Linked DNA regions of Homo sapiens. The protein of the gene in region 1 interacts with the protein of each later gene in a pairwise test. Each region holds a gene or a part of one and is shown in the gene's direction. Other genes may lie near its edges.

The links.
Region 2: the proteins of PKP2 (region 1) and GRIPAP1 interact in binary tests that used the Homo sapiens proteins (3 or more experiments, as listed by UniProt).
Region 3: the proteins of PKP2 (region 1) and ROPN1 interact in binary tests that used the Homo sapiens proteins (3 or more experiments, as listed by UniProt).
Region 4: the proteins of PKP2 (region 1) and NCKIPSD interact in binary tests that used the Homo sapiens proteins (3 or more experiments, as listed by UniProt).

The regions. Positions count from the first base shown.
Region 1 is NC_000012.12:32,787,982-32,795,806, reverse strand, and holds the end of PKP2 (plakophilin-2), read left to right. Parts: intron 1-3,075; coding exon 3,076-3,163; intron 3,164-3,314; coding exon 3,315-3,383; coding exon of another isoform or gene 3,384-3,528; 3' UTR 3,529-5,052; downstream 5,053-7,825. UniProt on the Homo sapiens protein: A component of desmosome cell-cell junctions which are required for positive regulation of cellular adhesion.
Region 2 is NC_000023.11:48,984,563-48,993,864, reverse strand, and holds part of GRIPAP1 (GRIP1-associated protein 1), read left to right. Parts: intron 1-286; coding exon 287-437; intron 438-2,754; coding exon 2,755-2,939; intron 2,940-3,132; coding exon 3,133-3,180; intron 3,181-3,861; coding exon 3,862-3,893; intron 3,894-3,982; coding exon 3,983-4,030; intron 4,031-4,154; coding exon 4,155-4,254; intron 4,255-5,666; coding exon 5,667-5,744; intron 5,745-5,987; coding exon 5,988-6,080; intron 6,081-8,462; coding exon 8,463-8,597; intron 8,598-9,302. UniProt on the Homo sapiens protein: Regulates the endosomal recycling back to the neuronal plasma membrane, possibly by connecting early and late recycling endosomal domains and promoting segregation of recycling endosomes from early endosomal membranes.
Region 3 is NC_000003.12:123,973,702-123,983,003, reverse strand, and holds part of ROPN1 (ropporin-1A), read left to right. Parts: intron 1-1,579; exon of another isoform or gene 1,580-1,625; intron 1,626-2,399; exon of another isoform or gene 2,400-2,510; 5' UTR 2,511-2,522; coding exon 2,523-2,638; exon of another isoform or gene 2,639-4,329; intron 4,330-6,022; coding exon 6,023-6,140; intron 6,141-7,463; coding exon 7,464-7,625; intron 7,626-9,302. UniProt on the Homo sapiens protein: Important for male fertility. With ROPN1L, involved in fibrous sheath integrity and sperm motility, plays a role in PKA-dependent signaling processes required for spermatozoa capacitation.
Region 4 is NC_000003.12:48,673,045-48,677,918, reverse strand, and holds the end of NCKIPSD (NCK-interacting protein with SH3 domain), read left to right. Parts: intron 1-3,171; coding exon 3,172-3,375; 3' UTR 3,376-4,075; downstream 4,076-4,874. UniProt on the Homo sapiens protein: Has an important role in stress fiber formation induced by active diaphanous protein homolog 1 (DRF1). Induces microspike formation, in vivo. In vitro, stimulates N-WASP-induced ARP2/3 complex activation in the absence of CDC42.

The DNA.
Region 1 (7,825 bases):
CAGCTGTGATTTAATAACAGCAGAATGTAGGCAAAGCAGGAGTCCTCTGAATAGGCAAGTGCCCTTTTCCTCACTTCCATCTTAGGAGGGGATGTCACACCAGGTGGTTTAGAAGAAGCAGTGATGGGCTGGGCACAGTGGCTCATGCCTGTAATCCCAGCACTTTGGGAGGCCCAAGCAGATGGATCACTTGAGGTCAGAAGTTCGAGACCAGCCTGGCCGACATGGCAAAACCCTGTCTCTAGTAAAAATACAAAAATTAGCTGGGTGTGGTGGTGCGTGTCTGTAATTCTAGCTACTTGGAAGACTGAGGTTTGAGAATCACTTGAGCCCAGGAGGCAGAGGTTGCAATGAGCCGTGATCGTGCCACTGCACTCCAGCCTGGTTGACAGAGTGAGATTCTGTCTCAAAAAAGAAAAAAAAAAAAAAGCAGCAGCAGCAGTGATGACACAGGAGAAGCAGTCAGGGGGTAGCCTGATGAGAAAGTCTTGCTTTCACAGTTTTTTCTCTGTCTTATCTCTTCCGCATCTTATTCCCTTTTGATAATAGAAGGTCCAATGCATGTCATTCCACATCTGTGTTCCTGTTTTCAACTTTTCCCTATTAAAAAAAAAAAGGAGGAGAATGAAAAACCTTGTATAACCAAATTATTTACTATTAGTTAATTTAGAGTGATGAGATTGGAAAGGGGCATGAAGATTATCTTTTTCTCTTTATACAATTCTGAATTGTTTGACTTATTACAAATAGATATGTTACTTTTGTAAATAACCAAACAAGAAAAGAAATGGCTATGATAGCCTAGTTTTAATGAGTTACAAAGCAGATGACTTCACCTGTACTGAAGAAATGTGTGCTTGGCTGTACAGGGATGTACATGTTACCTCTACTACAGCCCCACCCAATTTAGGCCCCTTCTGCTCTGCAGCCCCACTCTGCAGTGCACACAAGGAAGGAAGACTGCATTTAGAGTCAGATTAAAACAAGCCCTGAGCACTGGCTGGAGTGTCAGTTCCCCAAGAATATTCACCCATCCCCAGAGGCTGGCAGATAGTATTAGAGTTGCTCAGTCTTTGTGGAAAGAGTGAATTACTGTTGCAAAACAGAAATGACTTTTCTTCCAAATAGTCATCCAAACTTCCAAGCAAATCACCGTAAGATAGTATGATGCTCATTATTCGAGTATTCAGACATAACAATTGTTGCACATGGCAATATGCAATTACTTTTGGAAACTTCTGGTAGCTTAGCAAGATAAGGGGTGAGCTACTCTGTTACTTGTTTATTTCCGAGTGTCCACTTGTGAGTCCTCACATGCCCTGTCTCAAAAACAAAAGTTAACAAGGAGCTTCTTGCCAGTGGTGTCTGCTGCTCTTTCCTTACTAGAGTGTTATATATCTGACCTACCGTTTGTGGACTAGCCTGGGAACTAATTATCATTTATAACATTACATCTTTGAATAAAAGAGTACCAAGTATCAAACAACCAACTTATAAACAAATATTATGAATATAACAGCCTTGCAATTTAATAACTTTTTACAGTTTTGAATATTAGAGACCCATCACTTTGATGGATTTATTTGCCCTTCAGTTATTACCAAGTGATTCTGAAAAGTCCAGGGGTTACTAATAAGTGCTGATTTGACTGCTCCTCCCTGCCAGGCTAGTATGGAGGAGAAAGACTTTTCACTCTTGAAGGAACACACCATGCTCTTCTCCGTACATCTTTGCACTCTCTGGTTTTGGTTTTATGTTTACAAATGCCTGTGATATGGGGGGAAAAAGAATCTTTGTTTAAGAAAAAAAATCAGCCATGTGCTAATCAGGTGATAGAAGAGAAAGAGATCTAAGGCGGCACTGATCTAAGCCAGAGGTGGGACATTTAGGATAAAGTTAAAAGCAGAACATGGGCTGGGCACAGTGGCTCACATCTGTAATCCCAGCACTATGAGAGGCCGAGGCAGGCGGATCATGAAGTCAGGAGATCGAGACCACCCTGGCTAACACAGTGAAACCCCATCTCTACTAAAAATACAAAAAATTAGCCTGGCGTGGTGGCATGCGCCTGTAGTCCCAGCTACTTCGGAGGCTGAGGCAGGAGAATCGCTTGAACCTGGGAGACGGAGGTTGCAGTGAGCCGAGATCGCTCCACTGCACTCCAGCCTCAAAAAAAAAAAAAAAAAAAAAAAAGCAGAATATGAAAGACTAAGTACAGTTCAAATGCAGTGGTGACTTTGATTTATAGCAAGAACAAGTTTTCCATTTGCTCTATATGGAAACGTAAAGAGATTTTGAAACTGCTTTAACAAGGGCTGCCACAAGAATTTCTTTTATTGACTTGAAAAATTACTCCTACATTCATGATGTCACAAAATCGTATGTATTTTTCAGTCATGGTTTCATGCATTTTTATTCTATAAACATACATTATAAGTATACAAATATAGATTATATTCTATAAATAATTCAAGGATTTATAACATATCTAAAGATACATTCCTTATAAATATCAGGGATTTTTCTGTATAAATTACTTGTTTGTTTATTATTATTATTATTATTTTGAGATGGAGTCTAGCTTTGTCACCAGGCTGGAGTGCAGTGGCGTGATCTCGGCTCACTGCAACCTCCGCCTCCCGGGTTCAAGTGATTCTCCTGCCTCAGCCTCCCGAGTAGCTGGGATTACAGGCACACACTGCCACGCCCAGCTAGATTTTGTATTTTTAGTACAGACGGGGTTTCACCATGTTGGCCAGGATGGTCTGACCTCGTGATCTACCCACCTCAGCCTCCCAAAAGTGCTGGGATTACAGGCGTGAGCCACCCCACCTGGCCTATAAACTATTTATTTATTAGCACTGTGCTAGTGGTTTAAAAAGAAAACAAAAACAGATATGGTCCCCGCCTTGCAGAGCTTGCTGCCTAATTGTCTGGTCACCGAGTGGCCTGACTTCATGGATGGCTGCTGCGGAGTAGCAGTTGAGGAGCGAAGAGGTCTTACAGAACACCCACAGGCCGCATCCAGAAGCCTCACTCATTCTCCCTGATCTCAGAATGTCCTTTTCTTTTCAGCTATGCCTCCAACAAAGCAAGTAAAGCTGCTTCCGTCCTTCTGTATTCTCTGTGGGCACACACGGAACTGCATCATGCCTACAAGAAGGTAAGAACATGAACAAGGAATGTGTCATAGTTAACAGAGCCAGGTAATAATGGCCCACTTGACTTGACCCTGGGAAGAAATCGCTAAAAAACTGCATTTTCTTGTGTGCCAGTTTTGTTACCTTTCACGTTTCTGTTTGCTTATTCCAAAGGCTCAGTTTAAGAAGACAGATTTTGTCAACAGCCGGACTGCCAAAGCCTACCACTCCCTTAAAGACTGAGGAAAATGACAAAGTATTCTCGGCTGCAAAAATCCCCAAAGGAAAACACCTATTTTTCTACTACCCAGCCCAAGAAACCTCAAAAGCATGCCTTGTTTCTATCCTTCTCTATTTCCGTGGTCCCCTGAATCCAGAAAACAAATAGAACATAATTTTATGAGTCTTCCAGAAGACCTTTGCAAGTTTGCCACCAGTAGATACCGGCCACAGGCTCGACAAATAGTGGTCTTTGTTATTAGGGCTTATGGTACATGGCTTCCTGGAATCAAAATGTGAATTCATGTGGAAGGGACATTAATCCAATAAATAAGGAAAGAAGCTGTTGCATTACTGGGATTTTAAAAGTTTGATTTACATTTATATTCCTTTTCTGGTTCCCATGTTTTGTCACTCATGTGCACATTGCTTCGCCATTGGGCCTCCAGTGTATTGTTCTGCAGTGTTGAAACAGAATGGAAATGACAAGAAATATCTGCAGTTATCCAGGAGAAAGTATAATGGCAAAATTATTGGTTTCTTTCTTTACTTTGTGCTTGTTTTTATCCCCTTGGGTTGTTTTTCTCTGATTTTTAAATAAACTTAAGAAATTTAGATTACAGAGTATGCATGACTGTAAGAAAAAGAAATTGAGAGGAAGTGATCATAGCAAATTAAAGAAGTCTTTTCCTCCCAGAACTTAAAGTAAAATAAAAAATAAATAAATAAATAAAATCTTTTCCACAGAGAAAGGCAACTGTGATGATAAAATTTAACGTTCCCCCAAACACTGAGTCAATGAGATTTTTCTCAGGAGATACTTTACCTATAACAACGCCGTTAAATCCAAATCTCTTCTAAACGATGGCATTCTATGTAATGCCTTTCCTGGACTTTTTTGGCCACTGCCCTGGACTAGTGAAAGAATGGACTCTATCTTTATCTGCAAGAGGAACTAAGGCCTTCTCTCAGACTGCCTGGCCAGCCTGGGGCACTGAAAATACGGCTCATGTTAATGAGTTACATTATCAGCCAGCCCAGCCTTGCCCACCATTTAAGAAATATCACAGAGCCACTAGATCTCATATGATCTTCTTCAAGCCATTATTTTAACTCAAGAAAACTCTAGAGAAGAAAAGTGAAGAAGTCATGTTGAAGAAGATGTAAGAATGTGTCAAGACCATCCAGAAATGATATGAGAAATACTGATATTTTAAATGGTTGACATCATCCAGCGAAATGAATCTACATTAAATGTTGTTTTAACTGCGCTATGATTAAAACCATTCATATAGAGTTAGTCTTTACAACTACTATTCTGTTATTTTTTTTTTTAATCTGACAACATTTGTCCTAAGTAAGATAAGCAAAAAAATTCTTCAACTCCTTTTGGCAAGAAAACTGTAACAGAAAATAAATTTTGAATGTGTACTTAAGTCTTTATTATATTTGAAGCAATTTTTTTTCAATTTTAAAAGCTGAATGAAGACAACTTAGGTTGCTAACCTAGTTCAAAATGAAATTATTTAGATACCAATTTTTAAAATACTGGAGAGAATTTATATGTCTTTTTCCAGAGTTCTGATGATAAGCATTTGGAGTGCATTTATTCCTCCAGATAATAAATGTGTGTTCAGAACTTTTTGTGTTTTTTAAGGCATTAATAAAGCCTTCGATAATATTAAATACAAAATGAGACCAAAGTAGTGTTGCTTGCATTGGCGTCTGTGTATATCTGGTTTATTTGTGTATCTTGGAATATATGGTATGATTGACATAAAATTTGAGGATTTAACCTTATAAACTTCAATTACTAAGGGTTTGATACTTTGTAATTAGTTATATTTTCCCCTTAATTAAAATCCTAAATTTTTACCAAGAGACATTTCCTGTGAGAATGGTGGGACTAGATGGTGACCTGACCATAAAAATGAAGACACATGCAGACGTGTTAGCTGCGGTTAGATTTTAGTATATTATTGGGTGATTCTGTGACTGTGAAAAGACAGACTACGTTTGATTTCCATGTGCTGCTTTGTTCACTCTGTTTGCAAACACCTCACTACTTTACAATTTGTGAACACCTCTCAGGGAGGTTCTTCTGTGAATGAACAGTTTTGATCACAGGTCTATACATAAATGTGTTTGTTTTCCTATGTGTCCCAGACAGGGCCCATGCCTTCAGAGAAACTAATGGGCAAAGCTGGGCCTTTTTGTTTATTTGTTCCAAAGGGCTGCTCTCTGTCAAGAATTCTTAATGGTCTTCTGGAATGAAGGGGGTTGCTGCCCTAGATTTCCATCACTGGAAACGTTTGTGTAGATCTGATGGCAATAACCAAAGGGTTATCTGATAAAATAGAGAGGGGATTAACATGTCAAGTGGGAGAATAAGCAGCAGGACTAGATAAACCACTATAAAACCAATTTAATCACCTTCTGAAGAAGCAATTTCTTAGAAGAAAACAGGAGATGGGAGATATATATATATATACACACACACACACATACGTTTATATATAGACACCTACATATATATATATATGTGTGTGTATGTGTATGTGTGCCTATATACTATAGTTATAAAATGAGATTTCCCCTAAATAAAATGTCTAATGAACTTACTGCTTTGGAATAAGGAGGACTTCAGTATGTGTGTACATTGAACAAAATTGCAGAAGAAGCCTCAAATCACAGAATCTCAGGATTAAGAGGGAATTTAGAAGGCATTTGGTCAAATCCTCCTCAAAGTATCATCTTGCATGAAAAAGATTCAGTTCTTATTAATGTGACAGAAAAGAAAAACATACAGTCATACACTCAACTAATGCTCAACATGACCATATAACTGGCTCTTTTCAAGACTCACTGTTGGATTAAAGTATTTCTTGTGGGAGGGAAAATAGATAAGGGAGCAAACTTTTCAAAATAAAATTCTGCTTTAAGTTTCATGTTTTAGTTTATAGTGATACTGACAGTTTCATCACTTATGAAGTAAATGTTAACCTTTGAAGGACTATAAGAAAAACTCTTTGTGATATGATGTTCAGGAAAGAGCTCAAAAATCCCAAGCATTGGCATAAGAATTGTTGAAAATATGAGCAGAAGGGAAAGTGCCCTGAAGGCCCTAGTCTGGGAGACTCAGTGAAAGGATCCAGCAGTCCTTAGCCTGAGAAGGGTGCTGTGTCACCTCTCTGTACATATTTGAAAGCCCACTGTAGAGAAGATGATAGGCTTGTTCTGGCATAACACAGAGGATGAAACCAGGATCAATAGGGGGAGGCTGTTATGAGACTAGCTTTGATAGGGTAATAGTGGACATATATTGAGTACTTCTCACAGCCTCATGAAATCATCCTTTTCTTTTTCTTTTTCTTTTTTTTCTTTTTTTTTTTTTTTTTTTTTTTTTGAGACAGAGTCTCGCTCTGTGGCCCAGGCTTGAGTGTAGTGGTGCCATCTCGGCTCACTGCAAGCTCCGCCCCCCAGGTTCAAGCAATTCTCCTGCCTCGGCCTCCCAAGTAGCTGGGACTACAGGCGCATGCTACCACGCCCGGGTAATTTTTTCTGTTTTTAGTAGAGACAAGGTTTCATCTCGTCTTGATCTCCTGATCTCGTGATCCACCCCACTCAGGCTCCCAAAGTGCTGGGATTACAGGTGTGTGCCACCACACCCGGCCTACTTGTTAACATTTTAAGAAGCATGAGAAAGAAAACCTCGAAGCAGACAGAGGTTAAGTCATAGCTGGAAAGTACAGAGGGGCTTTGTGAACCTAGATGGTTTGGCTCCTCTCTGGGAGTCCCCTGTGAACCAAGAATGAACAATCCATGTCTCCGTGCTGGTGAACAGTGGAGGTCTCTTTGGCTTTGCTATCTTTAGAGAGTAAAGAGTTCAGTATGACATCATGGTTAAGAGGGCTCATTCTAGAACAGCCAGTCTGCGCTCAAATTGTGGTTTCTCCACTTATTAGCTGAGGCACATCTCTTATTCTCACTGAGCCTCAGCTTTCCTTATCTGTAATGTGTGAGTGACAGTAGGATTTACCTCATTGGGTTGTTTTGAGGGTTAACTGTGTTAATAAATACAAAGCATTTGAAACAGTGCCTAATAGTATCTACTCAATAAATGCTGATACGGTTTGGCTGTGTGTCCCCACCCAAATCTCATCTCAAATTATAATCCCCACATGTTGAGGGAGGGACCAGGTGGGAGGTGATTGGATCATATTGGATCATAAGGGTGGTTTCCCTCATCCTGTTCTGCTGATAGTGAGTTCTCATGAGATCTGATGGTTTTATAAGGCAGTTTTCCCTGCTCTTACTTGCTCTCTCTCGCCTGCCACCATGTAAGACATGCCTCTTCCCCTTCCACCATGATTGTAAGTTTCCTGAGGCTCCCCCAGCCATGTGGAACTGTGAGTCAATCAAACCTCTTTCCTTTAAAAATTTCCCGGTCTCGGGTATTTCTTGAT
Region 2 (9,302 bases), on another chromosome or scaffold:
GCATCTCTGAGGTTGGGAGTAGGAAGAGGAAAATGGTTTTTGGTGTCCTCATACTTGGTATGCTCTTGGTATTCTCTGACTCTGCCACTTAAAAGATGTGTGAATTTGAACTTGTTTAACATCTCTGTGCCTCAATGTCCTTATTTGTAAAGTGGGAGGGCACCTATATCATAGGGTCATTATGGGAATTAAGTGAATTGTAAAGTACATGGACAAATGCTATGTAGGTTTCAGCAAATACTGCTCTGATTCTCTGCTTCTCTGCCCCTTCTCTTCCTCTGTTCAGCTCTGCAGCCAGATGGAACAGCTGGAGCAAGAGAACCAGCAACTGAAGGAGGGGGCTGCAGGAGCAGGGGTTGCCCAAGCTGGGCCCCTCGTGGATGGGGAGCTGCTGAGGCTACAGGCTGAAAACACAGCCTTGCAGAAGAACGTGGCAGGTGCATAGAGGCCCTCCTGGGGATGCGGAGACATTGGGGCTTGAGTAGGGCAAGGAAGGCCGTCATCCTCTCAGGGGAAGGAGAAGGGCTTCAGAAATAGGGTTGGCCCATGCCCTGTGTGGCTTTGGACAAGCCATTTCACCTCTCTGAGCCAAAGCCTTATCATCTACACAGTGCATGTAGTGATGTCTGTCACCCAGAAGATTGTAGTAGAGATAAAAGGTGATATCATTCTGCATTAGTTCAGTGTCTGGTACCTAGCAGATGTTACAGATTAGCAGCTTGAATGTCAAAAAGGAGATATTTGCGGCCGGGCGCGGTGGCTCACGCCTGTAATCCCAGCACTTTGGGAGGCTGAGGCGGGCGGATTGCGAGGTCAGCAGATCAAGACCATCCTGGCTAACATGGTGAAACCCCGTCTCTACTAGAAATACAGAAAATTGGCCGGGCACGGTGGCGGGCGCCTGTAGTCCCAGCTACTCTGGAGGCTGAGGCAGGAGAATGGTGTGAACCTGGGAGGTGGAGCTTGCAGTGAGCCGAGATCACACCACTGCACTCCAGCCTGGGCGACAGAGCGAGACTCCATCTCAAAAAAAAAAAGGAGATATTTGCTAAGTGAAAAAGTGAATGGAGTGTTGGGAAGATTCTGAGCCCAGATTGTAAGTGGGGTCTGGGATGAAAGCTGAAAGAAAGCTTGATAGAGTGTGGGAGCATGTGGTGTGTGGAACTTTGGAGAGCAGCTGGGACTTCTGTGGTGATGGATGCTGGTTCCATGACCAGGAGGGAGACTTAGTAGAATGTGAGTAGGAATTAGGAGGCTCTAGGAGGGATTCAGCTGTAAGTCAGTGGTAGCATATGGTGGGCATGGCCTTCAAGGGCTATGGGTGGGGCTTCAAGGATTGAGAATGGGATTTGTGAAACCAGCTTGGGCTAATTTAATAGTAAACAGAATCTTAGTGGTTGATAGGGCTTAAAATATTTGTGAGAGCCTGGGCACAGTGGCTCATACCTTGATTCCAGCACTCTGGGAGGCTGAGGCAGAAGGATCTCTTGAGGCTAGGAGTTTAAGACCAGCCTAGGCAACATAGCAGGAACTTGTGTGTACTAAAAATAAAATAATTAGGCCAGGCACGGTGTTTCACACCTGTAATCCTAGCACTTTGGGAGGCCAAGGTGGGCAGATCGCCTGAGGTCAGGAGTTCAAGACCAGCCTGGCCAACATGGCAAAACCCCATTTCTATTAAAAATACAATAATTAGCCAGGTTTGATGGCAAATGCCTGTAATTCCAGCTACTTGGGAGGCTGAGGCAGGAGAATCACTTGAACCTGGGAGGCAGAGGTTGCAGTGAGCCGAGATCACACCACTGTACTCCAGCCTGGGTGACAGAGAAAGACTCAGTCTCAAGAAAATAAACAAATAAATAAATAATAAAATAAAATTAACTGGGCATGGTGTGCACTTGTAGTCCCAGCTACTTGGGAGGATCGCTTGAGCCCAGGAGTTTGAGGTTGCAGTGAGCTATGATTGCACCACTGCACACCAGCCTGGGCAACAGAGCAAGACTGTCTAGGGAAAAAGATTTTTTTGAGACGGAGTCTCACTCTGTCACCCAGGCTGGAGTGCAATGGCTCGATCGCGGCTCACTGCAACCTCTGCCTCCTGGGTTCAAGCGATTCTCCTGCCTCAGCCCCACGAGTAGCTGGGATTACAAGCGCGTGCGCCACCACGCCCAGCTAATTTTTGTATTTTTAGTAGAGACGGGGTTTCACCATATTGGTCAGGCTGGTCTTGAACTCCTGACCTCATGATCCACCTGCCTTGGCCTCCCAAAGTGCTGGGATACAGGCGTGAGCCACCGTGCCCAGCCACGGAAAAAGATTTTTGGGGGAGGCTGAGGTGGGAGGATTGCTTGAGCTCAGGAGTTCAAGACCAGTCTGGGCAATGTAGCGAGACCTTGTCTCTACAAAAAAATCAAAAAATTAGCCCGGCATGATGGCACACACCTCTGATCCCAGCTACTTGGGAGAGTGAGGTGGGAGAATCACTTGAGCCCAGGAGGTCAAGGTTGCAGTGAACTGTGATCATTCCAGTGCACTCCAGCCTGGGTGACAGAGCAAGTCCCTGTCTCAAAAAAAAAAAGAAAAAAATGTGAGAGGCATGGATAGAGCTGAACCTTCGTCTTTTAGGCATGTGGTCATTTGGCACAGGGACTCTGCCACCTGAGGGGTTGAAGGCCAGTTCTCCCTCTATTCGAGGCATGGCAAGGGACTTCAGAGACCACCTCATCCATCATATATCCCTGTTCTACTCACCAGCCCTGCAGGAACGCTATGGGAAAGAAGCCGGGAAGTTCTCAGCTGTCAGTGAGGGCCAGGGGGATCCCCCAGGGGGCCTGGCCCCCACCGTCCTGGCCCCCATGCCGTTGGCAGAGGTGGAGCTGAAATGGGAAATGGAGAAAGAGGAGAAGAGATTGCTCTGGGAACAGCTGCAAGGCTTAGAGGTGAATCTGAGTCTGTTGGAGCTGGAATGCCAGAAGGCAGGGCAGATGTTCTACCTCTGTCTATAGTCCCACGGAGATGGCTGTGACATCACCATCTTGTGGGCTGATGGGGTGAGGGAGGCAGGAGGGCAGGGGAAGGCTTCTCCTTGTCCTTGCTAACAACAACCCTCCCATCCCTCATCCTTCCCTGCAGAGCTCAAAGCAGGCCGAAACATCCAGGCTGCAGGAGGAACTTGCTAAGGTGCGGCTGCTTGGCTCTTTCCCATTCTGCTCCCAATCTGCTGGATTCTTTCCCATTCCATTCCCAATCCTAGGGCAGAAGGGGCATTGTACCCCATCAAAGCCTAGGTTTCATCATCTGTGAAATGGAGAGACTCACACCTATGTCTCAGAGTTACTTTCAGTATGGAATGAGTTAATGTGGTCCCACTATATCTTGTGCATGATAAGTTTCATCCCATCCATCTCTCAGCTTTGCCCATTCACTCATTCATTCATTCATGCAAGCATTTACAGACTCCTGGCTCTTATCTTAGGACCTGGAGACCCAGGGGTGCGGCACCCAGTCATGATATCCTGCTTTCCAGGCCTCCCAGCCTAGCCAATCTATAACATGGCCATTGGCCACTATGTTGGGAGCATAAATACCGGGCTTTGGAACCTGAAGGATCTGGGTGGAGATAATATTGTTGTTGCTGACCCGCTGAGCAACCAAATTACTTAACCTTTCCAAGACTCTGTTTCCCCATTTGTAAAACTGGTACTACTCACTTGTCAGGGCTATTTTGAGGATTCCACAAGACAACATAAGTAAATCCTGGCTTCCAAAAATGACTTAATAAGAAGTGTCTATATTTATTAATTTTAGGTTTGTCTTTATATTATTCTCAATGTTATCACTTGTCTGTACCTCTCTCCCCAGCTCTCCGAGAAACTGAAAAAGAAACAAGAAAGGTAAATTTCTTTTTCCCAAGGGTACTGGGGGCCGAGGGGGGAATTAACTTACGGAACTGACCCATCTACATCTGTCCTTCTGTGCCCAGTTTTTGCCGTCTGCAGACAGAAAAGGAGACTCTGTTTAATGACAGCAGGTAACTGCCAGATTTGCGGGTATTGGTGGACAATTGGGACAGTGCCCAGTGAAGATTACAGGGGCAGAGCTAGGAGACTGGGCCTCAAGCCATGTCCAACACACCCCCTCCCCATCACTCCTAGGAACAAGATTGAGGAATTACAACAACGGAAGGAAGCTGATCACAAAGCCCAGTTGGCTCGAACCCAGAAGCTGCAGCAGGAACTTGAGGCTGCCAATCAGGTGATGGGGACTGGGTTCTGAGATCCCTGGGGTAGGGGCCAGGACTGGGAGCCTGGAGAGGTCTGAGGTCCATGGAGGCTGGCTGGGGAGTCTGAGATTTCCTGTGTTGGAAATGGGTTCTGGGGCCCCCCAGGAGCTAGGAAAATGGGAATTGGAGAGCCCTAGGAATTGTTATAGGAGTCTTCATGAGTGTAAGATCTCAGGGGGCTAAGGACTTAGGGGGCTGTGTGCTATAAGTTTGTGTAAATCTGAAACTCCTGGAGGTTTGAGACCACAGTCTGGATGAATCTGTGGTCACTAGGGCCTAGGACCAGGAACTGGGGTAAGTCTGAACTCCCTGGGTGCTGGGTGACTTTGAAATCTTTAGGGGCTGGGATGTCAGTAAATTTGGGACTCCCAAGGGCTGAGGACATGGCTGGGTAGATATACAACTTTCAAGGGTGAGATAGTTGGGGCTGAAGGCTGAGTGCATTTGAGATCCTCAGGATCTGGGCGCTGGCTTGGGCCTAAGACACCTAGGAAGTGGGATCATATGGGCTAGGTAGTCCTGAGATCCTTGAGGGCTGTGAACAAAAAGCTGGTCAGTCTGAGACCTCCAGGGGCTGGAGCAGAAGTTTAGGTGGGTCTGAGGCTCCTGAGGACTGGGGGCTGGATGGTTCTGAAGCCTCTGGGTTTCCTTCTAGAAAAGGTGAGTCTGAGGTCCCTTGGAATGGAGGATATGGTGGCTTGTGGTTCTGAAGTCCCTAGAAACTGGGAACATGGGGTCTGAGACGGGAGTCTGGGTAAAGCTGAGACCCCCAGGAACTGGTGGTTAACTGGGTCTGAAGATTCCAAGAGACTGGGGAGCAGAGTGACAGGTGAAGGGGTCAGTCTGAGAGTTCACCAGGACCTGGAAACTAGGAGGTTGTGAGTTTGAGACCTCTAGGATCTGGGACTATGAGTTTGGGTGGATCTCACCTGGGAAGTAGGGACGTGGGAGATGAGTGTGTCTGAAACCCCTGGTGGTTGGGATTGGGAGGCTGGGTGAAACTGTCATCCTTGGGTGCTGACTACATCTGAGATCCATGGGGCTGACTGTGTCTGAGAATCCTGGAGCTCCCAAGCTAGAATCTGGGTGAGCATGAGACTTCTTATGGATGGGAGCTGAGTGAGTTTGAACCGCGTAGCAGCTAGGGCCAGGAGTCTAGTCGTGCCTGAGATCTTGTACGCTGGGATAGAGGGGTTGACTGTGTCTGAGGCCCCTGAGGGTAGTGACCTGGCGTCTGGGTGAACCTGAGATTGCTGTTGGCTGGATAGTCTGAGACCCACAGGTGCTGAGAACATGCTGCTGGGTGGTCAAACAGAGAGTCTGTACGGTTATATGCACCCCAGGAGAGGCTGAGGTGTAAAATGGGCTCCCCTGGTCTCCACAGAGCTTGGCAGAGCTGAGAGATCAGCGGCAGGGGGAGCGCCTGGAACATGCAGCAGCTTTGCGGGCCCTACAAGATCAGGTATATTGTACTGCGTGGGCTCAGGGAGCTGGGGTTCAGGATGGGGGCAGCCTGAGTGGGTACTACATAGTCAGGCAAGGTCCCAGGGATCCTGCTTCCCCCAGGCCTTCGTGTGTGTGTGTGTGTGTGTGTGTGTGTGTGTGTGTGTGTGTGTGTGTGTGTGTGTCCTTTCTTTCTTGGTCGTGGGTAGGTCCTGTCCCCCTGTTCTGGACCCACTCTCACCTGCTGTGGACGTGGGGCCAGGTATCCATCCAGAGTGCAGATGCACAGGAACAAGTGGAAGGGCTTTTGGCTGAGAACAATGCCTTGAGGACTAGCCTGGCTGCCCTGGAGCAGGTAAAGAACACCTGGGGGCCCTTGCTGATCCCTCTCCAGTTCCCCCATCTCCATCTGCTTCTGGTCCACATCAGGGTAGGGTGGTCTGGACCCCATGCTGTTCTCCTGTCTTTGTTTCTGTTGCTCCTTTCTGTTGGCGTCCAGCCCTCTTCTCTCTGGCCATCCATCCCTACTTTTTTTTTTTTTTAACTTTTAAAAATTTTATTGGGGAGGCTGAGGCAGGAGAATTGCTTGAACCAGGACCCAGGAGGCAGAGGTTTCAGTGAGCCGAGATCGCACCACTGTACTCCAGCCTGGGCGACAGAGCAATACTCTGTCTCAAAAAAAAAAAAAAAAAAAAAAGGGCGTGGTGGCTCATGCCTGTAATCCTAGCACTTTGGGAGGCCAAAGATGTGTGGATGGCCTGAGCTCAGTTCAAGACCAGCCTGGGCAACACGGTGAAACCCCATCTCTACTAAAATACAAAAAATTAGCTGGGTGTGGCGGTGTGTGCCTGTAATCCCAGCTACTCGGGAGGCTGAGACAGGAGAATCTCTTGAACCCAGGAGGCGGAGGTTGCAGTAAGCCGAGATCGTGCCATTGCACTCCAGCCTGGGCAACAGAGCGAGACTCCGTCTAAAAAAAAAAAAAAAAAAAAAGCCGGGCATGGTGGCTCAATTCTGTAATCCTAGCACTTTGGGAGGCCGAGGAGGGCGGATCACCTGAGGTCAGGAGTTCGAGACCAGCCTGACCAACATAGAGAAACCCCGTCTCTACTAAAAATACAAAATTAGCTGGGTGTGGTGGTGGGCACCTGTAATCCAAGCTACTCGGGAGGCTGAGGTGGGAGAATTGCTTGAGCCCAGGAGGTGGAGTGTGCGGTGAGCCGAGATCGTGCCATTGCACTCAAGCCTGGGCAACAAGAGTGAAACTCTGTCTCAAAAAAACAAAAAACAAAACGAAAAAAAACTTATTGGCCGGGCATGATGGCTCACACCTGTAATCCCAGCACTTTGGGAGGCAGAGGTGGGCGGATCACCTGACATCAGGAGTTTGAGACCAGCCTAGCCAACATGGCAAAACCTTGTCTCTACTAAAAATACAAAAATTAGGCCAGGCGCAGTGGCTCACGCCTATAATCCCAGCACTTTGGAAGGCTGAGACGGGCGGATCACCTGGGGTTCGGAGTTCGAGACCAGCCTGGCCAATATGGTGAAACCCCGTCTCTACTAAAAATACAAAAAAAAATAGCTGGGCATGGTGGCGCACACCTGTAATCCCAGCTACTCGGGAGGCTGAGGCAGGAGAATTGCTTGAACCTGGGAGGTGGAGGTTATAGTGAGCCGAGATTGTGCCACTGCACCCCAGCCTGGGTGACAGAGTGAGACTCCATCTCAAAAAAGAGAAAACAAAATTATTTTGTAGAGACAGGGTCTCACTATGTTACCCAGACTGGCTTAAACTTCTGGCCTCAAGCTATCTTCCCACCTCGGCCTTCCAAAGTGCTGGGATTATAGGTGTGAGCCACTGTGCTTGGCCTATCTCTGCTTTTTTTTTTTTTTGTAGACGGAGTTTCGGTCTTGTTGTCCAGGCTGGAGTGCTATGGCACGATCTCGGCTCACTGCAACCTCCGCCTCCCAGGTTCAAGCGATTCTCCTGCCTCAGCCCTCCCAAATAGCTGGGACTACAGCCGTGTGCCACCATGCCCAGCTAATTTTTGTATTTTTAGTAGAGACGGGGTTTCACCATCTTGGCCAGGCTGGTCTCGAACTCCTGACCTCATGATCCACCCGCCTCGGCCTCCCAGAGTGCTGGGATTACAGGCATGAGCCACCGCGCCCGGCTTCTGCTTTTCTTTGTTTCTAGTTTCTCTCTAGTAAAGTGCATGAAATGTACTAATCTTAAGTGTACACTCAGTGAATCCTCTCTTCGTCTCTCTCTTTTTTTTCTCTCTCTCTCCCCGCCACCATAGCCACCACCCAGATCAAAGTATAAAGCACTTTTAGTACCCCAGAAGGTCCCCTTTACCCCTTCAAAGTCAGTACTCCCCCAGAAGTAACCATTATTCTGATCTCTAGCAACATAAGATTCATTTCGCTTGTTCTTTAACTTCATATAAATGGAATCAGCTGCTCTTTGTCTCTGACTTCTTTCTGGCAGCACTATGTAAGTTTATCCACGTGGCAGCACAGATCTGTTCTCTTACTGTTGTGTGGTATTCCATTGTATGAACATACCACATTTACCCATTCTCTTCATTGTTTTTCTGTTTGAAATTTCCTCTCTCTTCCTGGTTCTCTTCCCACCTCCCTCCCTGTTTCCCTGGAACTAGGGGGCTCATACCCTGTCCCTGGCCCCTGGGGTCCCTTTCACTCTACTTCTCATCACCACTACTTTCTCCAGATCCAAACAGCAAAGACCCAAGAACTGAATATGCTCCGGGAACAGACCACTGGGCTGGCAGCTGAGTTGCAGCAGCAGCAGGCTGAGTACGAGGACCTTATGGGACAGAAAGATGACCTCAACTCCCAGCTCCAGGTAACACCTTTGGCTCTGGCCTGTCTCTTCCTAGTTCCCTAGTAATGGCCCAGTGAAGTCCCCAGTAAGGTGGAGTGGGAAGACTGGAGTCAGGAGGACCTAGGTTCCAGTCTGGCTCCCTAACTTATTAGCACCTGTGTGTTCTGGGACAAGTCATTTCACTTCTCTGAAACTGAGCCTCTTCAGTTAGTTAGGATATCAATTCTTTTTCATTTTTTAAATTTTAATTTAATTTAATTTTTTTTTGAGATGGAGTCTTGCTCTGTCACCTAGTCTGGAGTGCAGTGGCGTGATCTCGGCTCACTGCAAGCTCCGCCTCCCGTGTTCTCGCCATTCTCCTGCCTCAGCCTCCCGAGTAGCTGGGACTATAGGCGCCTGCCACCATGCCCAGCTAATTTTTTGTATTTTTAGTAGAGACGGGGTTTCACCGTGTTAACCAGGATGGTTTCGATCTCCTGACCTCGTGATCTGCCCGCCTCGGCCTCCCGAAGTGCTGGTATTACAGGCGTGAGCCACCACGCCCGGCTCCTTTTTTTTTTTTTTTTTTTTTTTTGAGATGGAGTCTCACTCTGTTGCCCAGGCTGGAGTGCAGTAGCGCGATCTCAGCTCACTGCAACCTCCGCCTCCTGGGTTCAAGCGATTCTCCTGCCTCAGCCTCCGGAGTAGCTGGGATTACAGGCGCCTGGCACCACGCCCAGCTAATTT
Region 3 (9,302 bases), on another chromosome or scaffold:
GACATTGTGCTAAGCGAAATAAACCACACACAAAGGGACAAATATTATATGCCATATGATTTTATATGATAGTCAAATTCATGAAGATAGAAGAATGGTGGTTGCCAGGAGCTGTGGGGAAGGAGAATAGGGAGTTAGTACTTAATGGGTACAGAGTTTCAGCTAGTGAAGATGAAAAAGTTCTGGAGATGGCTGGTGGTGATTGTGGCACAACAATGTGAATGTACTTAATGACACTGAACTGTACATTTAAAATGGTAAATTGTATGTATTTTTAACACAGTAAAAGAATATATATATGTGCAGACAACATGAGCAAATAAGGCACTGCTCTTTGATAGATAAAATGGGTTGAAAAGTCATCAGAAACAACTTATAAGAGTAACTTTTTAAATGATGAAATATTTCATACTGACAAAATTAAATACATGATGTAAGTAGAAGTATAAAAATAATGAAACAAGCATCTAGACAGCAACCATCCAGCTTAAAACATAGAGCATTACTAATAGTACTGAGACCCTTGTTGTATTTCCCTAATAACATCCCTCTCCATCCTCTCCCTCCTCCACCAGGGGTAACCACCATTCTGAATTTGTATTTATCATTCCTTACTCTTTATTATAATATTATAACATATATATGTCACCAGAAACAATATATTGCTTTTCCACCTAGCATGGTGAGACTCCTCCATGGTGATGTCTGTGGCATACTCATTGAGAATTGTTGTTATTGTCTTAACAATTGAAGCTTTTTATCATTTTATCAAAAACAATTGAAGCTTTCGTCACTCTTTTTTCCTAATAGTGCATTTTGCCTTAAAGTATCTTTTGTCTGGCATGAGTATGTCTACCTTAACTTTTATTGGTTATTCTTTGCTTATTTATACTCTTTTCACCTTGAGTCTTTCTGTGTCTTCATTTTTTCAGGTGTACCTATACCTGTATTTTAACTGGCACATTTAAGCCCATTTATTTTTATTGTGATTACTGATATGTATGCATTATTTTCTACCATGTTATTTGTCTACTTTTCCTGTTTTTACCCCTCCTTTCTTGCCTTCTTTTTGACTGATGAAGGGTTTTGTTTGTTTGCTTGTTTGTGTTTTTAAAAAATTCCTTTTTTCCTCTCTACAGATTTAGTGGTTACATTACTGTTATAACTTTTCTAACACTTTGCAAAGTCTAAAATTAATCATTATTTTATCCTCTTTTTCCTCCAAATAAAAGAACATAAATAAAGTAAAAGGTCATGAAGTCCCACCAACCTAAGACCACTTTAGTTTCTTGTCTTGGGATTTCCCAGCCATGCTGGTGTTGGCATAAATTGAAAACTTAGAACTAGTCTGTGGCTACCAACTCCTGGGGGACTGTTTCTCTCCTGACTAGAAGCAGCAATGGAGACAGGTTTCTTTGTTGCTTACCCCTGCCTGTAGGCGGATATTTTCAGCCACACCTTTTCACGCTGAGGGTGTAGTCCCTGGGCGGGTCTCAAGTTTAGGTCAGAAGGGGAGTCCTTTAGTCCAGACATTTGCCTTTTGTGAGCCTAATCCTTGGTCTCTATCCACCCTGCCTAGCAATTTATCTCAAAGCTGCAAGTTCCTGCCATCTACATGTGCCCAGGTGAGCCCTAGTTTCTTCATTTGCCCAGCACTGCGGGTTCCCCTTTACTCACCTCATTGGCCACTGGAAGATTTCTCTCACTTCACTGCAAGCCCAGCAAGGCAATGTGAAAGGCTTGTACTGAGATTTGTCTGGCCTCTAGGTGTTTTGAAGAGGGACAGCTTTTTAGCATATCTAGTCTGTCCCTTTCTCTACTAAAAGCAGAAAAAAATCTTTTGATCTGTTGTTTATTTGTGGAGGGAATTGTATACACTTTATGGATTTTCATATTTTGTTTCAATTTGTCCTGGAACTTTTTGAGAGAAAATGTACGAATTTTCCACCTGACAATTAGAGTGGAAAAGAACATGCAGCTGTAAAGAGAGACGCTCACCAAATGGCTGTTTAATGACTATTTTTATGTGGAAATGGCCTAATGTCAATTCACAGAGGGTTCAGAGTAAATTTTGCTACAATTCTTACCCAACTAATAAGTGCTGGACGACATGGAAAGATGTTCATGATATACTTTTGAGTAAATAAGCTGTTTTGTATAATCTTATTTTTTTATTTTACAAACATATATATACTGAAAAATTCTGGATTTTGGGGGGTGATATCATTATTTTGGGGCGATATCATTAGGGAATTTTTTGCTGACCTCCACTTTTTAAATGAACAAGGGCTGTGTAATTTTTATGTAAAGGACATAACTATTTCCAACAAAAAGTAGGGGTTAGCAGATGGTTTTCTAACCTTGGCGTTGTGTAATAATAGAATGCATTTGTCTTGCAGAGTCCCCAAAATTGAGTGTCAAACAGAGGCTGGGTGACCTCCTGTCCAGGATTGCTCTCATCGTATGAATCGAAGTTTTCATCTTAACGTATTTTTTTCTCCTGAGAATAGGCCAACCAATCAATGGCTCAGACAGATAAGCCAACATGCATCCCGCCGGAGCTGCCGAAGATGCTGAAGGAGTTTGCCAAAGCCGCCATTAGGGTGCAGCCGCAGGACCTCATCCAGTGGGCAGCCGAGTACGTGCTCCTTTCTCGCCTTCACCCCTTGGAGGACGGCCGGAGACAGAGGGTCCTGTAAAACCGCGGAGGTTGTCATGGCTGCAGCTAGGAAGTCCGGACTAACTGGCATCGTCTTTGTTTTAGCTCTTGCATTGCTTTGATGCTTTAAAATCCACACATAAATGCTACATCTAGCTGGGCAAGGATGGGATGCCTCCCCTAAGGGAGCCAGATTGAGCAGTAGGACGCCAGGTCAATAGGCCGTGTCCTGGGGCAAGCAGCAAGTTAGATGACCGCGTCACACCAGCGTATGCACACCCACCTCCTCCCTGCACGCCTTTTCCCACTCCCGGTGGAAAGAAGGGCTGGGAATCTCCGAAGCTTAATCTGCCTTTCTTCGTTCTCCTGTCTCACCACTAGATGGCAGCAGTGCAGCCGGGGGAGGGAAGCGACAGCCCTGGGTGGATGGGGTGGGACCAGTCCTGCTAGTTCACTCCTTTAAGGAGACACTTCCTCCCCTGCTGTTAAAACTCATACTTGGACCCAACCAAAGACCCTTTATATCTTGTCTTGGAGGAAATTATTGTTATTTTCTTTAGTGTTTCTCTGAACTGATTTTGTTCTGCCAACATAAAGATGTCCGCACAGTACACACTGCATTCTGGGGAAAGGCCAAGCAGAGTGATGGGGTCCTCAGGCATGGCTGAAAACAGTGTGCCTCAAACACGGGTGCCTTCTTTCAGGAGAGACCTCCAGAGGCTGCTCAGTAGATGGAGCTTACACAACAATCGCTGCGGGCCTGGATTGAAGTAGCTTTGCACAGAAAGCCTCTCAGCTATGAAATTGCTCCTTGGACAAACTTGCCTGCTTGAAACTGGGGAACCAGGACTTGAGACAGGAGTTGGAAGATAACTAGACCTCACGGACCATTTTCAGGCTATTTTTACTGTTTGATGATTCCCTGCTTAGGAGGGTTTCAGTGGGAAAGTGAGAGTGAGAGAGGCCGTTGAGAGAAAGCCAGTGAGTTGGGGAAGGGAAGATGTCCTCAGGCTGAGGTTGTGAGTGGGTGTCCTGGGCAGATGGTGGGGAGAGTGTGGACACCTTTGAGAAGACACAAAATGGCATCTAAGAGGGGCCTTTCGGAGTCTCTGGGCCAGTGCTGTGCTCCTGGACTGGATTAGGATGTAGCTTTTACAATTGGAAGGAAAATAAGCCAGTGGTGCTCATAAAAAGAAACATAAATGGGGGTTGCTTTGCCTAGTAATGAGCCCTGTTTAGTTCTCCATTTTAAATTTTATATATTGCCTCTAAGATTGAACTTTAGCTTCAGAAGACTAATTTATTTTGGCATAGTCAGATAGACAGACTTTATCTTATACGTTAGTTTCAAACCCATTTGATTGTTCTTGTGCTGCCGTTTTATAGTAAGCAAACTGACATTGCTTAGTATTGTCCCTGACATTTATGGAAGAGGCATTCCACTATTGTAGACTGCTTGCTCTCGTATTGTATCACGTGCTATAATTTTTTTAGACATCCATGAAAACTTAGTTTGTAGTTTAACCACAATGAAAAAGGAGGGCATGACCTAAGAGCCCCCTCCATTCTATCCAGACATGAAAAGCACTGCTCAGATGGTTGTATGTGACTTACTTAAAACCTGTAGCATTTTAGAGAATAAAACTCTGCAAAGTGTTTCCAAGACAAAATACGTTTTTAATCCATTGCAAGTAAGAATTTCCCTACATATGTGTTGTCAATGAAGAAACCTCTTACCAGGCATCGGCAGGACATATACTTATTTGTCCTCTGGTAGGCATGTGTTACAACACAAATTTGCAATATATGTGTATAACCATGGACCTGATCACTTGCAAATGAAGCTCAATAACCCAAAGAACGAAATCCATGATTACAGCTTTGCTTCCATGTTGTCTAACCAATTCCACAAGAAGTCCAGAGATGTTGGTGATGAGTGTTACTCTACCTGGGCAGCACTTCTGTGGAATGAGGTGCTGTGTGTCTCTGTCCCTCCCATTTATACCACCCAAGTCTGGTTTATAAAGCCTGAGGCCACACCCTGCTCCTATTGTCATATTGCACCCACACCCCGCCCACCCCAACACTGATCTGTGTGCAGAGATTTCTCATGCACATTGTTAAAGGTGCCCTTCCTGCTGATGACCTCCAAGGGGTGACTGGCAATTACTGCTTTAGTCCATGTAGCTTTCGCTCTGCCTTGCTACGTGGCTCAGAGACAGGCAATGGTTAGCCCATCATTGTATGGCTTGACCCTGAAATGGACTTTTACAAAATTCCCTCTATATTATTTTCATACTACCTGGATCTGGAGGAAGTAATGGAGGGAAAAAAGCAGGGCGGGACAGAAATTTGTGGTTCATGGATCGTCAATAACCAGGCTTTTGATGGAGACAGACCCTGCCATGCTGCATTGGTGACCCACATGTCAGCGGCTCATGTCCATTCCCTGCTGCAGGCAGCCTCTTTTCATCTTATGCCAGTCCTGAAACAGAACTCAGTACTTGTTCCACAATGCCCCCAAACGAAGTCCACTCCACAAAACATTGAGGAGCAGGCAGATTTCACTGAAAATTTTGAGGGAAGATGGAGAAACAGTTTCATTTCAGAGGCACCATATAGCTTAAGATTGTCTCAAACCTTCTTCGGCTTCTCTTCTCTCCTGAGCCTTGCAGGCTGCCCTGCCAATGCTCTCTCCCTTCCCTCTTGAAGCCCCAAGCCTCACTACCTCCAGCCAGAAACCCTTCCTGATTCACCCCAGGACACTTCCATCTCTTCCCCTTCCCTCCTTTTTTGTTTCTTCAGAGATGGGGGTCTCACTCTGTCACCCAGTCTGGAGTGTAGTGGCACAATTATAGTTCACTGCAGCCTCAAACTCCTGGGCTTAAGTGGTCCTCCAGCCTGGAGTCACCAGATTACAGGCCCTAGCCACCATTCCTGTGCTGCCTTCCCCTTTCTTACGTACATTACTTTTTAGTTCTCTTCCAACTTCTCTTCCCAATATTATATATACATATGTAATATACATCTGCGTGTATAAAACACTCAGAGATGACTGAAAAAGAAACCTGAACCCAATATGCTCCAGGGAATTGCATACCCAAACTTTTCTTGGTTCTTCCTCATCCTTAGAGAAGAACAAAGCTTTGTATTCTCTAAGCATTCTCTATGCCCTAAGTGGAGAGTAACACATTCAGACTTTTCCCATATGTAAGTGAACTAAACACAATGACACATAGAAGCCACTTAACAAAGGTTCCTTTCTCTACCTCCTTCCCTCAGAAGAAGGTGGAAGGATTGCTAGAACAGCCAGAGGCCACTGGTGTATAGGATCCTCCTACTCTCTGACTTTTTTTCTTGTAGTTATTTTGAGGCCCTGTCCCGTGGAGAGACGCCTCCGGTGAGAGAGCGGTCTGAGCGAGTCGCTTTGTGTAACCGGGCAGAGCTAACACCTGAGCTGTTAAAGATCCTGCATTCTCAGGTAAGGGCCCTGCTGCAGCATTGAGGAGAATGTAGGGACAGTGTTGAGGCTGGGTGGGTACAGACAAAAAGCCCTCTGTTCTCCTGACAGTCAGCTGACCACTTAGCACCACCCTAAAATACACTAAACCGTGGACTGAAAGTAAATCTTTCCTTGGCAAATGGGAATAATTTTGAAATAGGCTGTAGGCTGAGTCATTGGTGGGGTCATCCCAGATTTCCTTGAAGCTGGCAGAATGTACAGGGGCTCAATGCAATGCTAATCTCGTCTCTCCAGAAAAGTGCAAGTCCTCAGTCACTGGACAGTGTCTCCTTACTGATCAAGACTGTAATATGATGAAAATCACAGTTTGGGGAAGGGCATATTTTAGCTCCCCAGCTATCCAAGGTCCAGACATTGCTTTTAGCTTTTAGGGAGAGGCTGTGAGCCTCTTCATAGCCACATCATCCTGGGAGCTGCCTGGTGAATGAATGCATGAGGAAGGTGCAGCTTGAGAAAGTTTGTGGTTTGGCAAATTCCCAGGACATATGGTTGAGCACCACCAAACCCTGCTTTATGGTCCAGGACAGAGCGGTTTGGGGTGATTTAGGACTGGCTTGGCTAACCACCTTGGTCCCAGAGGCTTAGCATTTCACTAGAATCAGACAGTCAGGAAAGGTGTTGGAGCACTTCATCGGGCATCTGTGCTCTTGTTGCATTGGTGGCCAACAACCAGTCACCTTCCCTCCTTTTATCCACCAAGTACCTTGTGCAGTGAACATGACAGAGCTCTAAAATACCTGGGATCAAGCAACATTAGGCATCCAGACCAAATCCCCACAGGTCAGCCACATACCCCATATCATTCCTGGGAAAGCATGAGGGATGCACTTGAGGTCTAGAGCTAAGAACTCAGTGCAATCGGGAAGAAACAGACCTATGTCTTGTTCTAATTTTACCATTCATTAGTGGTCTCAGGTAAGCCCTCTACCCCTTGGTTTTGTTTTCAGGCTCTTCTATCTGTCATATAAGGAATAAAACAATTTAGGAATACAATAGCAGATAAAAGCATCACCAGAAATTAAAATGTAATATAAATGTATATCTTTTGCATAATTCTGACACCTAAAGTTTGAGAATTAATAAATTATATTTCAGCATGCTCTTCACTAGGATTTGCAAAGATAACTGCCACACAGAGCCATCTTTACCTTCCTAACACCCCCTCCCGCCCCTTGCCATGTGCTGGGAGATGTGGACCTGGCCTGGGGACAGGGTGTTTCTCAGGGCCTTGTCTCAACTTCTCCCACAACCTCTGTGTTGTGTCTGTCCCCTGCCCTGCAGGTTGCTGGCAGACTGATCATCCGTGCAGAGGAGCTGGCCCAGATGTGGAAAGTGGTGAATCTCCCAACAGATCTGTTTAATAGTGTGATGAATGTGGGTCGCTTCACGGAGGAGATCGAGTGGCTGAAGTTTTTAGCCCTTGCTTGCAGCGCTCTGGGAGTTGTAAGTTAGCTTGACTGTTTTTTGTTCCTGAAGGGGAAATCTCCCTCTGGGCCTGGAAGGGCAGTGCATCTATACACGCGGTCAACTCTGCAGGGCTGATGATAAACATGCCTCTTCTCCTCTTGTCCTTCTCCTCTCTAAAGCAAGGTCATTTCTGTGCTCGTCAGGCAGTGGCAGGGGTTGGGAGGAGGAGAGAGGGAAACACTGTGGTCAGGCTCTGGGGAGAGTTGACTACAGTGTAGCTCTTGGATTATTTATGAATATTGCCCTCAGATTTATTTTCACTCCGCTCCTTCCATTCATATTCCCAGAGACAACCAAGAGCCGACTGTAGAAAAAGACTTCCAGACACCTAGAATATATATCAATAGACACTGTTTAAAAGGGGTACAATCTTATCGAAAACTATGTAATAAACAGAATTGGATGCAGAACTCAGACATAAGAAAGCAAAAAAAAAGAGAGATGAGGCTATTTCTGAATTTAGTCATGACATCTCCATGGATGCAGGATGTTCATACAGATTTATGCCTTTTCCAAATTTGACTTGTTTGATATTGGAAATGCAATTTTACTGTTTTGAAGCCAAAGATGCTGAAATCAGCTTATATGTATAGATATTTAAAGCTTGGGTATCTTATATGTGGACTTACATTGCTAAACATTGTTAAAATAACTTAAAATGAATCAAAAACGTGTTTTTTTAAAAGAATCCCTGAGATACATACAAGTTTGAAAATTATTGAGAAAATAATTGCCTCTGCCAAAACCAAATGGTATGAAAAGGTAGTCTGAATCATTCAGCATATCTAAACATAATCTTGTTCTTCTCAAATATGCTTGGAATACATATTTGACAGGTTTGTTTCTGAGAAAATTTAGTGGAAATATTGTAGTCCAAATTTCCTATAGATTCCCCTACAGCCTTCATCATAATCATTTCTTTAGAGAGAAGTAAACAAGAGGACATTTGTGGCACTTTCTTCATTGTCCTTTATAGCATTTATTACTGAATAAATCACTATCCTCTGAGGAGGAAAGGAAAGTAAGCAGCAGAGGCCTATGAGTTGTCAGTCAGGACTGGGGAAAATCACAAACAGGAAGATAAAAAATGAACATATTTTATTAAATTCTCATAGGGTTACAGATTTTTTTCACACCACATTTGGAGACGTTTTTGGGGGAAAATATACCTTTAAAATTTTATCTGTAGTTAATTTGGATCTTCTTGGTCTACCCCACCCACAAAGGGTCAAATAAGAAAATAAATAAATTCAATCCAATCCTGAAATTTTAGTCTGATGCAGTAACTGAAACAGCCTAAAGGTAAATTTCCCAGTATCTCAGGTTTTTCCTCACCACGCTCTCTTCTCCAAGATGGCAGTTGAATGTAGGCAGAAAGAGCTGACTCTAGGACCACAGAGCAGTCAAGTGAAGGGTTTCTCACATCCCTTAGTCTTCCCTGGCATCTCTGGTCTCCATGGTAATGCCTGTCTGTCTGGTCGCTAGCTGCTTGCAGCTTAAGTTTTTGGTCTCGTCTCTCCCGGACTGGTGAAAGGCTGATGATGCCTCCCCAACTGGCTCATTTCAGTTCTCAATGGTGTCGAGGGCCTCCTTGATTCTCTGCCAGGCTGTCCTATCTGCTCCCTGGCTCTGGTGGTCTACTTCACAGACCCT
Region 4 (4,874 bases), on another chromosome or scaffold:
TGGGGAATGAGTTGAGACTAGAGAGACATTTCGGAGTGGTCTATGCAGAGATACGATGGGAAGCCTGTGACAATGTGATTGCCTCAGAAATGAGATAGATAGGCAGGTCAGCGGGAAGTTCGGGCTGCAGCCCTGGGCACAGCTGAAACAACTAGGGAGAAACCCAGGAAGAGAACCAAGAAAGCAGGAGCCCAAAGCCACATGTTTAGAGGAAGACGATCAGCCATCTCTATACCGTTAGGAGCCTGAGCGAGACTGGGGTTGGCCATTGGATTCACCACACAGAGGTCAGTGGTGCCTGACAAGCAGTGTCAGTGGGGTGCAAGGAGGAGAGTCTGAATGAAAGTTTGAGAGAGCTTGAAGTTATTGGGGAGTAGAAATGAGGGGAGGGTTGGAAGCAGTAAATGGAGACAACTCTTGTGAATTTTCTATTAAGGGGAAGAGAAAAATGGAAGGGAGGTTGCTGGAGAGAGATGACATGGGGATAGGGAGAGTGTTTTTTTGGGGGTTTTTTGTTGTTGTTGTTTGTTTGTTTGTTTGTCTCCCACTGTTGCCAAGGCTGGAGTGTAGTGGCACGATCGTGGCTCACTGTAACCTCCGCCTCCTGGTTTCAAGTGATTCTCCTGCCTCAGCCTCCCAAGTTGCTGGGATTACAGTCACCCACTACCACACCCAGCTAATTTTTATATTTTAGCAGAGACAGGGTTTCGCCATGTTGGCCAGGCTGGTCTTGAACTCCTGACCTCATGCAATCCACCTGCCTCAGCCTCCCAAAGTGTTGGGATTACAGGTGTGAGCCACCGTGCCTGGCCAGGGAGAGTGTTTTGAAGATGGGGGATGTTGGCCAGGCGCGGTGGCTCATGCTTGTAATCCCAGCACTTTGGGAGGCTGAGGTGGGTGGATCACTTGAGGTCAGGAATTCGAGACCAGCCTGGTCAAAGTGGTCTCTACTAAAAATACAAAATACGAAAAATACAAAAATTAGCTGGGTATGGTGGTGGGAGCCTGTAATCCCACCTACTTGGGAGGCTGAGGCAGGAGAATTGCTTGAACCCGGGAGGTGGAGGTTGCTGTGAGCCAAGATCACACCACTGCACTCCAGCTTGGGTGACAGATGGGGGATGTTGGCCAGGTGCAGTGGCTCACGCCTATAATCCCAGCACTTTGGGAGGCCGAAGTGGGAGGATCACTTGAGTCCATGAGTTCAAGATCAGCCTGGGCAACATAGTGAGACCTCTGTATAACCTGATGGACCACAGTAGAAAATAAAATTAGCTGGGCATGGTGGTATGCACCTGTAATTCCAACTACTTTGGAGGCTGAAGTGGGAAGATTACTTGAGCCCAGGAGGTCAAGGCTGCATTGAGCCATGATTGTGTCATTGCACTCCAGCCTGGGCAACAAAGCCAGACCTTGTCTCTTTAAAAAACAAAAACAAAAATGGTACGGATGATGGTGCATGTTCTGAGCCGGAGGGAATGATCCAGCAAGCACAGAGAGATGGATGATGTGTTGGAGATGGTGAGCCACCACAGGAGTCAAGTGGATGGGGCAGGAGGGGAGAGTTCAGGTCCAGGCCCACATGGACAGGAGCTAGGGCTGCTCATTCTGGTAGGGACAGGTGAGATGTGGGTACTGAGGGGAAAGACGGGTTTCTGCAAGATTACTTCTGTATTCTCTATGAAGCACAAGGCCAGCTGACAAGGTAGGTAGGTTTCAAAGACAGAGAAGGTGGACATTATTACTACTCTAAGGGAGAGTGACACAGCAGAGAAAAGCAGTGGGAGGCTCAGGCAGTGCTGTGTGTCCGTTTGAGGTTTGCGGTGGTGAATGACATTCAGGCCTGCACATGGCTCTGCATTTGTCTATAGCTTAGACGCTGGTGTTTGATGTGCAGGCACCTCAGTATGACTCCCAGGGCTGGGACTTAGCAGGGTGTGCTGCCTAAAGGAGGTTTTGGTATTATTTCTCTAATTAAAGGTAAAAAGAGAAATGAGGGATGTTGAGGGAAGCAGACATCAGGTCAGTGGACTGGGGGTCTCTGTGAGAACAAGCTGTCAAGTCATAAGGGCTGGCCGGGCGTGGTGGTTCACGCCTGTAATCCCAGCACTTTGGGAGGCCGAGGTGGGTGGATCACTTGAAGTCTGGAGTTTGAAACCAGCCTGGCCAACATGGCGAAACCCCGTCTCTTCTTAAAAAAAATACAAAAATTAGCCAGGCATTTTGGCACATGCCTGTAATCCCAGCTATTTGGGAGGCTGAGGCAGGAGAATCACTTGAATCCAGGAGTCAGAGGTTGCAGTGAGCCAAGATCATGCCACTGCACTCCAGCCTGGGTGACAGCACGAGACCCTGTCTCAAAAAAAAAAATGATATATATATATATATATCATATATATATATATATATGATATATATATATAGATCATAAGGGCTGTTGGAACTGGTTCAGCCAGAGGTGTTGGGAGTATAGGTTGGAGGAGAGGCTGTTGGAGATGAATTTGGGGCATATGTAGGAGGTAGGATGGCCAGGTCTTAGACATGGCTTGGATATGAGGTATGTGGGAGACAAGAAGCAAAGAGGACACCATATTTCAGGCCTGTGCTTTTGAATCGGCAACAGTGCTCTTTCTAAAGGTAAGAACATGAGAAAACCTTCAACTCTGGGAGGATGGGAAAGATCATGAGTTTGGTGGTAGATATGTGGATTTGAGGTCTGTCACATGTGCAGGAGATGTCAAGTGGGCAGTTGAATATTCTTGTCTGGAGCTCACAGGGGAGTTCTAGGTAAGAGGTATGAGAGTGGTTCACTATTTGAAGCTGTGAATGTGCACGAGGTCTTCCAGGGTAAGAGAGGATAGGGTGAGAAGCAGAGGGCCTCTGACTGATAGACAGAGGCACCTTGAGAGACCCAGCTTCAAAGGATGGGCAGGACTTCCCTGGGCAGGCCACATACTTGGGGCTGTCTGTGGCTGGGATGATTCGTTTATTCGCTTACTCAAAAACTATTGAAGACCAATTCTGTGCCAGGTATATTGTGGGTGCTGGGGATGCAGCCCTGATGTTCAGGTCCACAGCCCTGGGGTCTGTGGGACAGTGGGGTCCTGTCCCTGTCCAGTGGTGGTTGCAGTACCTCCCTGGGGTCCCTGAGCTGGCCTGCTCTTCCCACAGCTGCGCATGGAGTACCTCTCCCTGATGCATGCTATAGTCCGCACCACACCCTACCTGCAGCACCGCCACCGGCTACCCGACCTGCAGGCCATACTGCGACGCATCCTGAATGAGGAGGAGACCTCACCCCAGTGCCAGATGGACCGCATGATTGTCCGAGAGATGTGCAAGGAATTCCTGGTGCTGGGGGAGGCTCCCAGCTAGCACCTTGCTGTCCTCCCTTCCCTGCAGCTCCAGTCAGTGTGCAGGGGACTCAGGGGCTTGGCCCTAAGAATGTTTTGCACTGACAGTGGGAGGGGATAAGGTGGCAGAAGGAACCTGAGCAGGACCCCCACCTGAAGTAGAACTTAAGAGAGGGGCCAAGTGTAGGATTGGGGACCATGGTCTGGGAGCTGTTCTGGGGCAGGGGGAATATGCAAGCTAAAGCCCCTCTATACCCTGGTAGGCTTCCTCTTCAGCATGCCCCCCTCTTCACCCCACACCCATGTGTACACTCAGAGTCCTGCTGCCGCTCCAGGCTGGACCAGACCCCCATCCCCACCCCTCCTGGTCTGTATCCTGGGCCTCAGCAAGCCATGCCCCTGGGGTGAGGGGAGGCATCTCCCACCAGCTCTATTCTTTGCCTTAGCTTTGCAGTGAGTGCTGCTCATGTCCTCCCCTCCACCCGCACATGGGGGTCGCTGCCCTTCACTCCTACCCCCAGAGGCCTTGGCCAAGCTGCTGCTTTGAAAGCGGGATCTTGGAGACAGGCCATCCATCCTGGAGCCTCATGGAACAGGATGATGGCACTGAGAAAGCCAATGACCGAATCTCTTTTCTCTGTAAAAATGTAGACTGAAAAGCCATGTGTATTTTCCTATGTGCTGTAGCTCTCCTTTGGAAATAAATCACAGGCATCTGGAAACAGGCTTCCCTGTATGATCTTGGGAGACAGTGGGAGAGGATGGGCAGAAGTACTGGGGCCTCAGGACCCCATCACTGCAGCTTGCACTGACTTCTCCAGCCTGAGGAGGTGATGGACCCTGACAGGCCTGGCCTTCAAGGCCCTTTGAGCCCTGTTCTAGCCTCTCTTCCCTGAGCTCCACTTTTCCTGAGCCCCAGCCATAGCCAAGTGCCCCTCAGCAGCCCATTCGCAGGTGTCTGCATCTCCAGGCTTCACTTACACACTTACATCTTTCTTTTTCTCCTTTTTTTTTTTTTTGAGACAGTCTCACTCTGTTACCCAGGCTCACTGTAGCCTTGACCTCCCAGGCTCAAGTGATCCTCCTGCCTCAGCCTCCTGAGTAGCTGAAACTACAGTAGCCACCATGCCCAGCTAATTTAATTTTTTTTTTTTTTTTTGGTAGAGACAGGGTCCTACTATGTTGCTCAAGCAGGTCTCAAACACCTCAGTTCCGGTGATCCTCCTGCCTTGGCCTCCCAAAGTACGGGGATTATAGGCGTGACCCATCGCACCGGCCCGCTTACATCTTTCACTTACATCTTTTGCTTTGCTTTGAATACCGCTACTCTCTCCCCTGTTGAAACCCTATTGTCCTTCATAGTTGTTCTCAAATGAAGCAGGCCCCTACCTACCCCCAGCCCTGGCCTCTGAATGCTTGGGCCTGTCCAGCCCTATTTTCTTCCCCCATTTGTCCTTGTTTCCAGCAAGATCACCTCATCTTGCAACCTCAGCAGAGATCTGGTAATCATGGTAGGGCAGA